Homo sapiens: one gene and its partners. The protein of the gene in region 3 interacts with the protein of the main gene of each other region in a pairwise test. Each region holds a gene or a part of one and is shown on either strand. Other genes may lie near its edges.

Region 1 (3,500 bases), about 160 Mb from region 3:
TTACAAGTCAGAAGCAGGGCTAAAAGTAAGCTATCTTTAAATATTACTTTAATTTATATCATATTGTCTTTCATTATCTGAGTACTGAAGCCCACAAATGGAAGAACATTGCTACAAAGTCTTAAATTTAAATTTTATAGTTGAATAATTCTCTGAGAATTTGCTATTCTTTATTATGTCTAATGAAAGTTTTAAAAATTGTAAGCATTCTCAAAAGAAGGATAAATAATTGTGTATCTTTTTTAAACTAGTGTTCAGAATCAAGTGGATGAAGTTATTGATGTCATGCAAGAAAATATTACAAAGGTAATTGAGAGAGGGGAGAGACTAGATGAACTACAGGACAAATCAGGTACAGATCTTCATGTATTTCTTGATATTACTAATCTGTTTGCTAGTTTTTGTCTTCTACTTGTCTAGCCAACGTTTACAAATCTTGGCTTAGGAAATTGGCATTTGGTTCTTAAGTATATGATTTTAATGGTTTAATTTTAACTCCTTTACTTTGAGTCATCTTATTGTTTCATTATTTTTTAATTGTTCAGTGGAGAATGAAGAATTTAAAATTTCATTGTTGAAGAGTGAAGAGTAGAGCTGTTTTTTCTTTTGCCCTGTGATATTGATGAACTTTGTGTTTCTCATGATCTCAGGGCCTAAAGACCTACTCACTTTTCAACACTTGTTTCAAACTTATCTGCTATTTTTATTTTATGTTTTATTTGGTAACTTAGTCACCTTTCTTTACTTTCAGTCATTACACCTATAACCTATACCTATACCTATACCTATACCTGGCACGTACTTGCCACTCAAATATTGTTTGGTGAATGGCTGAATACCTGATTAATCTTTGACAGACTTTAGAAAAAAAAAAAACACCTCGCTTAGTCACATTTAAAATGTATATTGTTTTCCTTTAAAATCAGTCACTTTTGATATCTTCTAAGAAGCTAACTTCTCAACATGTAATTTTTTTTCTAGAGGTGTGCCAAGTATTTGAATTTTTAAAGAGTATTTTTCTTACTAGATTTCCTAAGTTTATTTATAAGCATTAAGGCCCTAAAAAGACTTTTCTTAATTTTATAATAAAAAAGAAGTGAGCAAACTGATCTGCAAGCTGTTTTTTGCTTTTTGTTTTCATTTTTTTAATAATGTAGAATGCCAGAGTTTGTGGGTGGAAAAAAGGGAGAATGCTGTTTTCATGCTTAAAAGGGAATAAATTTGCAGAAGTAGAAATTAATATTTTCTTATCTTTGTGTGACTAGATAAAAGAATCCTGTTATGTCGTTTAATCCTTCTCTCCATCCTCTATGTGATATAGAAAGCTTATCGGATAATGCAACAGCTTTTAGCAACAGATCCAAACAACTTCGAAGGCAAATGTGGTGGCGTGGATGCAAAGTAAGTAAATCAGAAGCTACTGGATAGACTGGTCAGCATCTGAAGTGGTATTCAAACACATGAAGAAAAAAGGGCCTCTAGAGCATAACCTCTGTGAGAACAGGGCCTATAACTGTCCTGAGACATGGTAGAAATTCAGTAAATACTTGTTAACTTAATTGCTTTTGGGATAGGGATAACTAAATAAATCAGTATGCCTAAAAGGATGTTTTCATAGATTTTTTTAATGAAAGTAATCCACATTTTATTAATATTTGACTACCTCTAAACTTATTAACTTAAAACAAATATACATTTTTTCTTGAAATTTACTATTAATACTTTTTTGGAGCAACCTCTATAGCATTATGTAGAGATATCAAAAGTAGGAGCTAGAGAAAAATATGACTTTCGGTTGAAAGGGTAAAAAATAAAAGCTTACATATCCGAATCTGTTAAGACAAATGGAGTTAAGAAAAAACTCCACTTCCCTCATTATTCCAGAAAAATAAAAAGTAAAAGAAATTTTTACCATTTTTAACAAGGTAAACATTGGAATCACTACATACTAATATATACTCCTGCAAAACATTGTATAGAAATACATTTACTTCTTAAATCCACTGTGGCTACTAATCATTAACAGAAAATGTTTTTCACGTTATATGAGCAAATCTTTTTTTTTTTTCTCCTGATTCTAGTTATAATTTTTGGCTTTGTTTAAAATTTAGACATGAACTCACTGTTTTTAGTCTCTCATTTTCAATTTCAAGTTTAGCAATAACTCTCCTTTTTTTTTTTTTTTTTTTCTTTGAGATAGAGTTTTGCTCTTGTTGTCCAGGCTGATCTCGGCTCACCACAATATCACCGCAACCTCTGCCTCCAGGGTTCAAGCGATTCTTCTGCCTCAGCCTCCTGAGTAGCTGGAATTACAGACATGTGCCACCATGCCCAGCTAATTTTGTTTTTTTTGTTTTTTTTTTTTTTAGTAGAGACGGGGTTTCTCCATGTTGGTCAGGCTGGTCTTGAACTCCTGACCTCAGGTGATCCACCTGCCTTGGCCTCCCAAAGTGCTGGGATTACAGGCATGAGCCACTGCACCAGCCAGCAATAACTTTCTAAACCTGACTTAGCCATATGCTGAGGATTTTTTCCAAGAGTTACCTTGGATTTATTTATTTTTATTTGTCTACCTATTGAATCGTCCTACTTTCAGAAGTGGAACTGAGGGAAGAAATATGTTTCATTTCTCCCCTTGTTCAGAATTTAAATTTTCTATTCTATTTTAAGTTATTTATTCTTTAAAGAATAAATTTATTTTCTTTAAAGTCTTTTTTTTTTTTTTTTTGTGGCACTCTTGCTGTGTCTCTGAGGCTGGAGTGCAGTGGCACAATCTTGGCTCACTGCAACCTCTGCCTCCTAGGTTCAAGTGATTCTCATGCCTCAGCCTCCTAAGTAGCCCAGGTTCAAGCGATTCTCCTGCCTTAGTCTCCCGAGTAGCTGGAATTACAGGCATGCACCACCACACCTGGCTAATTTTTGTATTTTTAGTAGAGACGGGGTTTCACTATGTTGGCCAGGCTGGTCTTGAACTTCTGGCCTCGAGCAATCTGCCCACCTCAGCCTCCCAAAGTGCTGGATTACAGGCATGAGCCACCACACTTTGCCTAAAGCTTCTATATCTATAGAAATTTTCTATTCTGTGGGCTAATTTAGAAAAACAAAAAGTCCATGAGCCACTCACCCCTTCTCTCTCCCAAACTCATGTACCCTATTCATGTATCCACAAAAAGATGGTCATAATGTACATTTTGCCTAGCTTTTTTTTTAACCATTGCTAAAAATGTTTGCTTTGTACTTTATGGGGTTTGGGTCAGAGGAATAGCGTGCTTTTAAGGAGGAAAAACATTGAGTCATATTTTTAAATAGTCATCACCTTGAGAACCTCTGGGGACCATGAATAGCATCGACCATGTAATGAAAATCATTGTTCCATAATGTAACAAACACCATTTACAGTAGCGAGTATTCTTCATTTATTATTTTCTAATGCTTAGCTTCCTTCAGTTTTACTGTGCCCCATTAATACTTCATTGTGCTACTGTTCATCTGGGGCAGCC
Region 2 (3,500 bases), on a different chromosome or scaffold from region 3:
CCACAGCTAGTAAGTGGTGGTATCAGGTTTGAAGATAAGCATACTTTATAGCATATGGTTAGCTCCTTTAGAAAGATAATAAGTAGGATCAAACATGAGAAGTTCATGGGGCTGAACATTGTAAGTTACCAGATGGAACACAGTGCCCTGTGGTCACAACTTTAAGCTATGAAGAGCATGTGATTGATCCAGAATTGAAAACTCTGAAGAACATGTTTGGTTTACATGTTCGCTTTTTTTCAGCAGCTAACTCAGTTATCAGAGGTGATGTTGCATAGAGGTTAGGACTGAGACTTCCCTAAGTCAGAGATCTTTGTTTTGCTGTATAACCTTCAGGCATTGCTTGCATTCTCTGTGTGCCACTTTCCTCATCTGGAAAATGAGGATAATCATGACAGTACATACCATAGGGTGTGGTCATGATTACATGAGTTGATACACATAAGGCACCTAGAATGCCTTAGAATGGCACCTAGCACATAGTAATTGCTCAAAAACATTATAACCTCTTTATTATTATTATTTGTTTAGCCATCATTCAGTCAGCAAATGGTTTTTGGACCCAGGTTCTCCCTACATGCTACATCCTACTGTACCACTTCTCGGCCACAGATGAGCTCTCCTGTTTTAATTCTCCTTCCTGCAGATGATGAGCATTTTTCAGTGTTGCCTCCTTTTTGGTGCTGTCATCTCCTGTGCCTCAGCTTCCCTCCCCCATACCCTTCCTCATAGTAAGTTCTAGTGGATGACTCTGAGATCAGCTCAAAATTCTTCTTCTTTTTTTTTTTTTTTTTTTTTGAGACGCCCAGGCTGGAGTGCAGTGGCACGATCACAGTTGATTGCAACCTCTGCCTCGCAGGTTCAAGGGATTTTCCGGTCTCAGCCTCCTGAGTAGCTGGGATTACAGACATGCACCACCATGCCACGTCCGGGTAATTTGTTGTATATTTAGTAGAGAAGGGGTTTCACCATGTTGACTGGGCTGGTCTCAAACTCCTGACCTGAAGTGATCCACCAGCCTCTGCCTTCCAAAGTGCTGGGATTACAGGCGTGAGCTACCTCGCCTGGCCCCTTTTTATGTTCTACATTAATTTATTACCAATTGATAATGGGAGATAAAAGGCCCATTAACCTAAATGATAAGCAATGAGAAAATTGTAAAAATATGCAAGGAATCTCACTTACCATTCCTCACATTTACAAAGATAATTACCTTCCCTGTGGAAGAAATATAGACGTGAGAAAGCTCAGAAATAAAGGCACCACTAGGGGTCTTAGAACTTAAAAAGCTGTAAAGAACTCCAGAACTCTTTTCATCTATTCTCCTAACTTGCAGGGAGAGTTGAGGGTGAGGGAGGGGCATGGTCTGAGGCCCAGTGGCCACATCTCTAGCCTGTGGCTGGCACGCTATCTACTGCATCTGAGAGAATTGTGGGCAGGGTTTCAGTGGAACTTCTCACCACTGGGTATGTTTCAGCTGCTGCTATGATGCACAGTAGGATGTCATTGTCATCCATTTAACTTCATGCTGGGGCTATATTGTATTCTTTAGTGATTTGCCATTGATTAAGTGTGGATGTCTCTGCTACCACAGAAGAGCTATCTTGCAAGGAAACTAATGACAAAGCCATTGTTTAAACTGAATTAGTCAATCTCCAAGAAGACATCCATCTGTAAAGAATGAGAGGACTAATATCTGTACAGACATGAAAGAATTATAAGATGGAATTGTGGAAGTTAAGGAATTTAGAGGAGGAAGAAGGCATTTGCTCCAGATCACTTTGATAGTACAGACTAGAGTCAAGGAAATTAGGAGGTAATTAATAAGGGTAGAAGTCAGGGGAGAAGGTTTAAAGGGAGGTGGCATACAGGGGATAGTCGGGCTTTTGGAGGTGGACAGGGAGGGAGGACATTTCAGGCATGGAAGTGAAAAGTGAAGATTGTAGTGTCACAGTTCAGTGAAGAGACCTGGCTGACCAGAGCAGAAGTTTTATTTGGGTAAGTGGAAAGAATTGAACAGCTGAGAGTATGGCAGATCTTGAAGACAGGCAGAGGAGAATCAGCTTGAGGTACCCCCCAGAGTGTGCTTAACAGTGATGAGGATGAAGGGGAAAGTAGAGGGTTGGGAGAGGTGAAGTTTGAACCTCTTTTTTCCCTTGAGACAGGGTGTCACTCTGTCATCCAGGCTGGAGTGCAGTGGCACAATCACGGCTCATTGCAACCTCAACCTCCAGGGCTCAAGCAATCCTCCCAACTCAGCATCCTGAGTAGCTGGGATCACACGTGCATGCCATCACACCCAGCTAATTTTTTGTATTTTTACTAGAGATGGGGTTTTGCCATGTTGATCAGGTTGGTCTCAAATTCCTGGGTTTAAGCCATCTACCTGCCTTGGTCTTCCCAAGTACTAGGATTACAGGCGTGAGCACCATGCCTGGCCGAACTTCCCTTTCTTTAGTAGACTAGAGAAATTAATTTCTGTAATTCTGTGGAATGTCTTTGTATTAGTCATTCTCACACTGCTCTAAATAACTACCTGAGACTCGGTAATTTATGAAGAAAAGAGGTTTAATCAACTCAACTTCCGCAGGCTGTACAGGAGGCGTGGCTGGAGAAGCCTCAGGAAACTTATAATCATGGTGGAAGGCAAAGGGGAAGCAAGCATGTCTTCACATGGCGACAGGAGGGGGAGAGCACGTGAAGGGGGAAGTGCTACACGCTTTCAAACATCCAGATCTTGTGAGAACTTTAGATCATGGAACAGCACTAGGGGGATGTTGCTAAACCATTAGCAGCCACCCCCGTGATCCAGTCACCTCCCACCAGGCCCCACCTCCAACACTCAGGATCACAATTCAACATGAAATTTGGGTGGGGACACACAGCCAAACCATATAAGCGTATCATTTTTAGATACATTCCCTCCCCAAAACTTTTTTATTTTGTATAATTTGTCCTTTCCCCCTTGCTTTAGAATTGCAACCTTGCCAATGGACCTGATCGGTTTTGGTTATGCAGCCCTCGTGACATTTGGAAGCATTTTTGGATATAAGCGGAGAGGTAAGCCTAACCCAAATTTTCATGAAAGGGAATTAGTGGGGGTTTGGAGGTTGTGCTAGGTCATGTGAGGCTCTGTAAGTAGGATGAGAAGCTAAAGATGCCTTAGAGGTGGCTGAAGACCAGCGTGTCTTGGAAGGGACTCATGAAAGGAAGAGGCTTCCGTGGGGCTGAGCATGACAGAGTGTTCCAACCTGGGGGTTCTGGGCCTCTCTTCCACCACAAAACTCTCACTTCACTTCATCATCAGTTGCATAGTTAATTGATTTAATCTCCCTCAGGACCACTGCTTATTATTAAATGAGGATTTTTTTTTTTTGCTTTACATAATCGTGGTACCAAAAAACTGAGTTATATTGATCCTGTGTGTTGTAATGAAAACATTGTTAAATATTCAGTTATCATATCCAAAGTTGTCTCTTCACCTTTGTCCAAAAGAGGGG
Region 3 (3,500 bases):
TGCCACCAACAAATTTAAAAGATAAGTGATACATTGGGGAAGATATGATAATAGTTGATATCCCTATTATAAAAAGAGCTCTTAGAAATGAATATGTAAGATGAATATACCAATAGGAAACAGACAAAGATTATGAATATTCCATAGATGTTCAACCAATAGATGTTCAACTTCATTAGTCATGAAATGCAAGCAAAAAGATGTCTTTTCTTTTTTTTGCCTATCATATTGATCAAGATAGACAGCCCCTACTGTTGGAGAGTTGTAGGGAAGATGGATTGCTGATGAAATGTTGACTGATAGAAACTTTCTTAAGAGTTTCACCATAAGGGGCAGTACTGAAGATGTGCGTATTGATCCTATTTATAAGAGTTTATCCCTGGGAGACAGTCCCACAGGTGCAAAGGAGTTTGTACCAGTATATTTATCAGATCATTGTTTAGGATAACAAAAACTTAGAAACAACCTAAAAAACCACCTACTGAGTTAAATGACGTACCTATTCAATGGAGTTCTATGCAGCAACTGTTGATCTATATTTGTTAATGTGGGACCATATCCACAACAATGAGAAAAGGGGGATATAATACAGCATCTTTGGTCAGGTTATGGTCCCATCAAATGTTGTGGCTGTGGGATTGGAGAGGGGTAGGAAAGGTATACACCAGAATGTTACAGTGGTTTGTCTCCAGGTAGAAGGATTCGGGATGTTTTTCTTTTCTTCATTAGATGTTTCTGTGTTGTTTGAATTTTCTACAAGCATTTCTTATCTTTATAGTGGGAAGGGAATTGTTCTTAATGTAATATGGATTAAAGGGAACCCTTGGTACACTAATGGTGGGAATGTAAATTAGTGCAACCACTGTGGAGAAGTTTAGAGTTTCTTCAAAAAACTCAAAATTGAGCTGCCAAATGATTCAGCAATGCCACTTGTGGGTACACACCAGAAGAAAAAAAAATCTCATTATATTGAAGGGATTTCTGCCCTCCAATGTTACCAGTTACCACCCCTTTCCATGGTAATGACCTGGAAGTTACCATCCCTTTCCTAGAATGTTCTAAATAGCTTGCCCTTCAATTTACATTAACCCACTTCTTACTTTTGCACATAATTGAAAGTGGGTGTAAGTGGGTACAAATACAATTTCCAAATTAAACTCATTTTCTGATAGCAAAGAATAATATATGCTGTATTGGTCAGGGTTCTCCAGAGACACAGAACCAGGGGGATATATATTTTTTTAAATGGAGATTTATTATGAGGAATTAGTTCCTGGGATCATGGAAGCCAAAAAGTCCCACAATTTGCCATCTGTAAGCTGCAGACCCAGGAAAGCAAGGGGTATAATTCATTCTGAGTTTGAAGGCCTGATTGAGAACGAGGAGAGGTGAGGGTATAGATCCTAGTCTGAGAGCAGGAGAAGATGAAATGAGATGTCCCAGCTCAAGCAGTGAGGCAGGGAGAAATGAGTCAAATTCCTGCTTGCTCTGACTTTGGGTCTATCTAGGGCCTCCATGGGTTGGATGGTGCCACCACACTGAGGAGGGGAATCTGCCTTACAGAGCCCACCGAGCTGAATGCTAGTATCTTCCAGAAACACCCTCACTCTCACAGTGTTTAATATGGGCAACCATGGCCAGTCAGGTTGACACCTAAAATTAACCATCACACATGCTTATTCTAGAAAACTTGAGAAATATAGAAAAGAACAAATATCAATCACTCATCATTCCCCACCCTAGCTGTGAGCACATTTGAGTTCATTCCTAAAGGAGGGTGGGAGGAAAACCAAGGCAGACTTTGAGGTTTCTGATGTTGGCCATGATCACCCCACAGGTTCAAGTATAGAGTCCTGGAAAGTGGCTATTGGCGTTAATTCTGACAAATGTGTAGAAAATATCCTGACTTTTTGGTTTTCTCTTTCAACAGTCAAATGAGAATAAGGCTGAGAGGACCTGATCTTTTTGAGTCTTGGGATAAACTTGGAAGATAAAATTACAGAATAATTTGAGACACACATAAATGTTATATTTCAGATATTCTTTCTCTACTGAAAGTTGGTAGCAACTTTGTACATTTCTGTGTTGCCTTTGACCAAAGGACCCAGCTGAGCATTGGAATAGCTCACGCAGCATGTCGCTAAGTGGGAAAGGCTTAAAGGCAAAGGAGGTTTAACACCCAGATAACATGGTGGAGTAGTTGAGAGTACAGTGTTCACTTCCTGCCCTCCCATTTCCTGAAGGTCTGACCAAGTCATTTAATCTTGATGTATCTCAGTCCATCTATAAATTGGGTATTATAATAATAGTGAGATAGAAAACAGGCAGGACTTGTTTTCTGATCATAACCCTGCTGACCAAAACAGGATGTGGTCCAGATGAGATAAGGTTTAAAAAAACACTAGCCAAAGCCAGCAAACGGGAACGAGGGTGATCCCTGGCTGCCCTCATTGCTCATCAGCATGGGACACTCTCACCAGTGCCATGACAGTTTACAATTGCCATGACAACGACCTGGCAGTTACCATCCCTTTCCATGGTAACGACCCAGAAGTTACCTTTCCTAGGAAGTCTTAAATAGCTTGCCCCTCAATTTGCATTAACCCACCCCTTAATTTGCATGTGACTAAAAGTGGGTATAAATACAATTTCCAAGAGCCCCTATGTGGCCAACTCAGGGTGTACTGCCTATGAGTTAGCCCTGCTCCACAAGAAGCAGTGCCCTTCAATAAAGAATTGTGGTCTAACACCACTGGCTCACCCTTGAATTCCTTCCTTGATGAAGCCAAGAACCCTCCCAGGCTAAGCCCCAATTTGGGGACTCACCTGTCCTGTCCTGCATGACTAGTACTTAACTCATAGTGTTGTCAGGAATCTGAAATTGGTTCATATTTGCTAAAATACTTAGAAGGGAGCCCAGCTCATAGTAAACACTTGAAGTATTCACTTTTATTGCCTCTAAGACCCATTTGTTATTTACAAGGCTGCTGTGTGTGGACTCTTTGGAGCCCATCCCTTTGGGATTTTGAATGACTTGAGCACAGGCTAACACTCTCCCTGTCTGTGTGTCTTCTTGCAGCCAGGAGGAAGAAGAGGAGGATGAGGAGGCTGCCTCAAGGTACTATGTTCCCAGCTACGAGGAAGTGATGAACACAAACTACTCAGAAGCAAGGGGAGAGGAGCAGAACCCGAGGTTGAGCATCTCTCTCCCGTCCTATGAGTCACTGACGGGGCTCGACGAGACCACCCCCACATCCACCAGGGCTGACGTGGAGGCCAGCCCTGGGAACCCCCCTGACAGGCAGAACTCTAAGTTGGCCAAACGACTGAAACCGCTGAAAGTTCGAAGGATTAAATCTGAAAAGCTTCACCTCAAAGACTTTAGGATCAACCTCCCAGACAAAAACGTCCCTCCTCCCTCGATAGAGCCTTTGACTCCTCCACCGCAGTATGATGAAGTCCAGGAGAAGGCCCCCGACACCCGGCCGCCCGACTGAATG
Region 4 (3,500 bases), on a different chromosome or scaffold from region 3:
TTTGCCGGTCACAGTCACAGCCGTAAGTGCTGCCCCCTGATAGCTCCAGGCAAGTCCTGGCCCCTGAGCCAGGCATGCCTCTTCCTGCCAGCTGGCCCTACTATGCAGCCTGTCGGGCAGGAGTCCTGGGAGCCCCTGTGGCCTTCAGAGTATAACTTTCCCTTCCTACTGGGCTTGGTGGGATCCCTTCCACGGGGCCTCTTCAGGCTGCCTAGAACCATGGTGTGAGTGAGCCCTGGCTCTGGCTGCTGGGCCTCACCTGCTGTTCCACATTTCCTCAGATGCCCACTGATGCCCAGACCGCCCCCAGGCTGTTCCACCTTGGACATGGCTCCAGGCCTCTCACGCTAGGATTCTACCAGGTGCCATGTCTGCAACCTGGCCCTGGCTCCAGAGGCCCACCCCAGCTTTGTCCCAGGGAAGGATCGCAAGGTTCCCACCATGCCATGTCTGGAGTAAGCGGAGCGAGCTGGCCTGTGGCCTGTTGTTGTTCTGACATCTACCCTGGGGGCCCTCCCTGCTGAACCTCTTCATGGACTGGGAATGGCCACATCCAAGGTAGAGGGGCCCTCCTCCCTGCACTGCCAGTCAGCAACTCATGGAGATTCCTCTCCACCTCACACCCCTGCTGTTTTTTTTTGTTTGTTTGTTTGTTTTTGAGATAGAGTCTCGCTCTGTCACCCAGGCTGGAGTGCAGTGGTGCCATCTCGGCTCACTGCAGCCTCCACCCCCTGGGTTCAAGCAATTCTTCTGCCTCAGCCTCCTGAGTAGCTGGGACTACAGGCGTGCGCCACCACGCCTGGCTAATTTTTGTATTTTTAGTAGAGACAGAGTTTCACCATGTTGGCCAGGATGGTCTGGATCTCCTGACCTCGTGATCCGCCCACCTTGGTCTCCCAAGGTGCTGGAATTACAGGCGTGAGCCACCATGCCCAGCCACACCCCTGCTTCTATCACCTTCTCTTACTCTTGCCATGGACTAACCAGGTTTTCTTTTATTCTCCAAAGATCTAGTGCAAACCACTCTCTGATAATAAAGATAGCAAACACTTACTGAACTCTGACCATGTAAAGCATGTTCTGGGCATCTTACCTGTTGGCTCCATGTCATCCTCACAAAACTCTTTGAAATATGAAATGTGGTTATCTTTGTTTTACACGTGAGTCAACTGAGCACAGAACTAAGGGAGTTGCCCAGTCATACCACAAGTGAGTGACAGAGCCAGGGGCACTGATTATAGCCCATGCTCCTTACCACTCACTTACCTGGAACCACCATTCCAGGCTTCTGGGCACTTGAGCTCCCAACTGCTTGCCCAGTTCTGGCCCTTACACTTCTAGAATCTTCTTGACATTTGTCTCCTTATCTGGTCCTAATCCCCACATCTTCTCTCCTGGTCCTGGCTGTCTTGTCTTCCGTTGCCTTTAGCCTGGTGGTGGCAAGGAGAGAGCTAACCAACGACTGCACATTTGCCTCGGGTCGTCTGCAAAGTGCATAATCCGTGTGCATGTAGTTGAGAGCTGGCTGAAAATCCAAGTCGGGACTTCCTTTAAGACCCACTTTCTGGGTCCTCTCCCACCTTTCAGGCCCATCCTGCTGTGTCAGCTCTGCTCTGTAGCCACCACTCCTGACCCCAGCCACAACTAAAAGAGGCATCTGGACCTACCTTCCCTCCCTGCCTCTGCAGCCAGGTCCCCTGGAGTCTCTCCACTCATGTTGACAGCTGGCTCCTGCTTCAGCAAATGCTGCAGGGTGTTTGATTGTCAGCTTCCCGAACCAGGCCCAGTGCTGGGGACCCCGCAGGGTCACCTTCTGAGGATGGGTTTGTGGCCTCTGAAGAGCCTCTTGACAGTCTTAGCCTCCCCTCACTCAGCCCACATCAAGCAGCTGGGTTATAAAGAAGGGGAACTTGCTATTTAGAAGGGAATCAGCGAGAGCTGTCAGCAGGACATAAATATTCATAGAGGGAGGTTAGAACTTGAGTCCCTAAAACCTTGATTTGTGTTCGACCGTTTAAGCCTCATTAAAAAGTGGCAAATGAAAGTGGGAATATTCAGTGGAACTGCAGATAAATTGGGCTTGTTCAGATAAAGGCCCCCGACTGCCAGCTCCGCAGGCTCTGCCCAGAGCATGATAGCAGATTGGCTTGGCCACTTGTGGTTTGCCAACCTCAAAATTTTAAGATTTTGCTTAGCATGAGTTCCTGGCCTTGCTCTGGGGGCAATTACCACTTGTTTGGGCACTTGGTAGCCTTCCAGAGGTGTTCAGGGATGGAATTCCGCAATCTGCTCCCTCCCCAGAATGACACGCAAACCAAGGCCTGGCTCAAGGACTGTTAAGGAGAAATCTCACCTAGGACTAAGACTTGCACTGGGCAATCTGCAAAGCGTACAATTTATGTGCATGTCTAGTTGCTTCTCCTCCTCCTAGCTTTTTCTAGCTTCTATGGACAAGAAGAACGGAGGTTTCAGGCTCCAGTTGCTACGTGAGACCTAAACCGTCTGTCCTTGCCCCTCAGTCCCACCCAAGCTCAACTCCACTCATTGTGGCTAAAAATACAAAGACTGCAGCAGGCTAGGCCTTGGTGGGCACAAAGAGGAGACAGATGGTCACTGTTCCTTCTAGGACAGGAGCTTTAGACTCGGGCCTCTGCCGGGACCAGGCAGTTCACATATATAAGTGGAATGGGCCAATCTGTGGGCTAGACCTGACCTACGGGCTGCCAGTTGGCACCATTTAGAGACCCCTAGAGTTTGGGAAGATAAAGTTTGGACACAAACAGAAGGGCAACAAAGAATATACTCAGCCTCATGAAGGAAGGACTGGTTAATTTCCCAGGAGAAGGAGGGTGGAATGCACCCCGTCCCCTGCCCCCCAACCCCCACCCCCCTGCCACAGCCAAGGGCAGCAGGGAAGCCTGGTGGAGGAGGTAGGGCATCAAGAATTAAGCTTTATTTGTGCTCTTGAGTGGAATCTGAGTCTCAGGGTACTGAGGGGCTGGGCTGTGTGCTGGGGGTGCTGCTGTAAAGGGGAGGCCACATGGTGGCCTGAGGCACTGGGCATGGGGCTGCCGCTCTTCCCTGAATCTGGCTTCCCAGTGTTCATTTCCATGCTGCACAGGTTCTAGGTAGGCCTTTGGCCTCCCCAGGGACAGCCCCATCTCCTGGCTGGGTCTGTTTCCCAGGACAGCCCTCCTTTTGGGTGCCCAGTAGCAGAGAAACGACACAATTAACCAGGCAATTAACTCAAGGCTCTGTGGTCGCTCTCTCCCACAGGGCCCTGCTTATGGGGCTGGAGGTGGCCATGGTGGGGCTGCAGGGCAGGGGGTGGATGGTGTGTCATTGCCAGGCCTCCCTCGGGAAGAAGGAAAAGTGGCTGACATGGAAGTGGCTGAGATGGGTGTTGGCCGTGGAGAGAGACAGAAGGCCCAGAGACTTGGAATGCAACTCTCCTGACACTCAGCCCCAGAATGCCTGCTACCCTCTAACCAGCCATTGTG

What was found. Proteins that work in one complex are often made in the same cells at the same time.
Region 1: the proteins of TMEM51 (region 3) and VAMP4 interact in binary tests that used the Homo sapiens proteins (3 or more experiments, as listed by UniProt).
Region 2: the proteins of TMEM51 (region 3) and TMEM14A interact in binary tests that used the Homo sapiens proteins (3 or more experiments, as listed by UniProt).
Region 4: the proteins of TMEM51 (region 3) and CCDC167 interact in binary tests that used the Homo sapiens proteins (3 or more experiments, as listed by UniProt).

Annotation. Positions count from the first base shown.
Region 1 is NC_000001.11:171,707,566-171,711,065, reverse strand, and holds part of VAMP4 (vesicle-associated membrane protein 4), read left to right. Parts: intron 1-251; coding exon 252-352; intron 353-1,265; coding exon of another isoform or gene 1,266-1,321; coding exon 1,322-1,401; intron 1,402-3,500. UniProt on the Homo sapiens protein: Involved in the pathway that functions to remove an inhibitor (probably synaptotagmin-4) of calcium-triggered exocytosis during the maturation of secretory granules.
Region 2 is NC_000006.12:52,674,113-52,677,612, forward strand, and holds part of TMEM14A (transmembrane protein 14A), read left to right. Parts: intron 1-2,974; 5' UTR 2,975-2,990; coding exon 2,991-3,060; intron 3,061-3,500. UniProt on the Homo sapiens protein: Inhibits apoptosis via negative regulation of the mitochondrial outer membrane permeabilization involved in apoptotic signaling pathway.
Region 3 is NC_000001.11:15,216,247-15,219,746, forward strand, and holds part of TMEM51 (transmembrane protein 51), read left to right. Parts: intron 1-3,079; coding exon 3,080-3,497; 3' UTR 3,498-3,500.
Region 4 is NC_000006.12:37,486,394-37,489,893, reverse strand, and holds part of CCDC167 (coiled-coil domain-containing protein 167), read left to right. Parts: intron 1-3,500.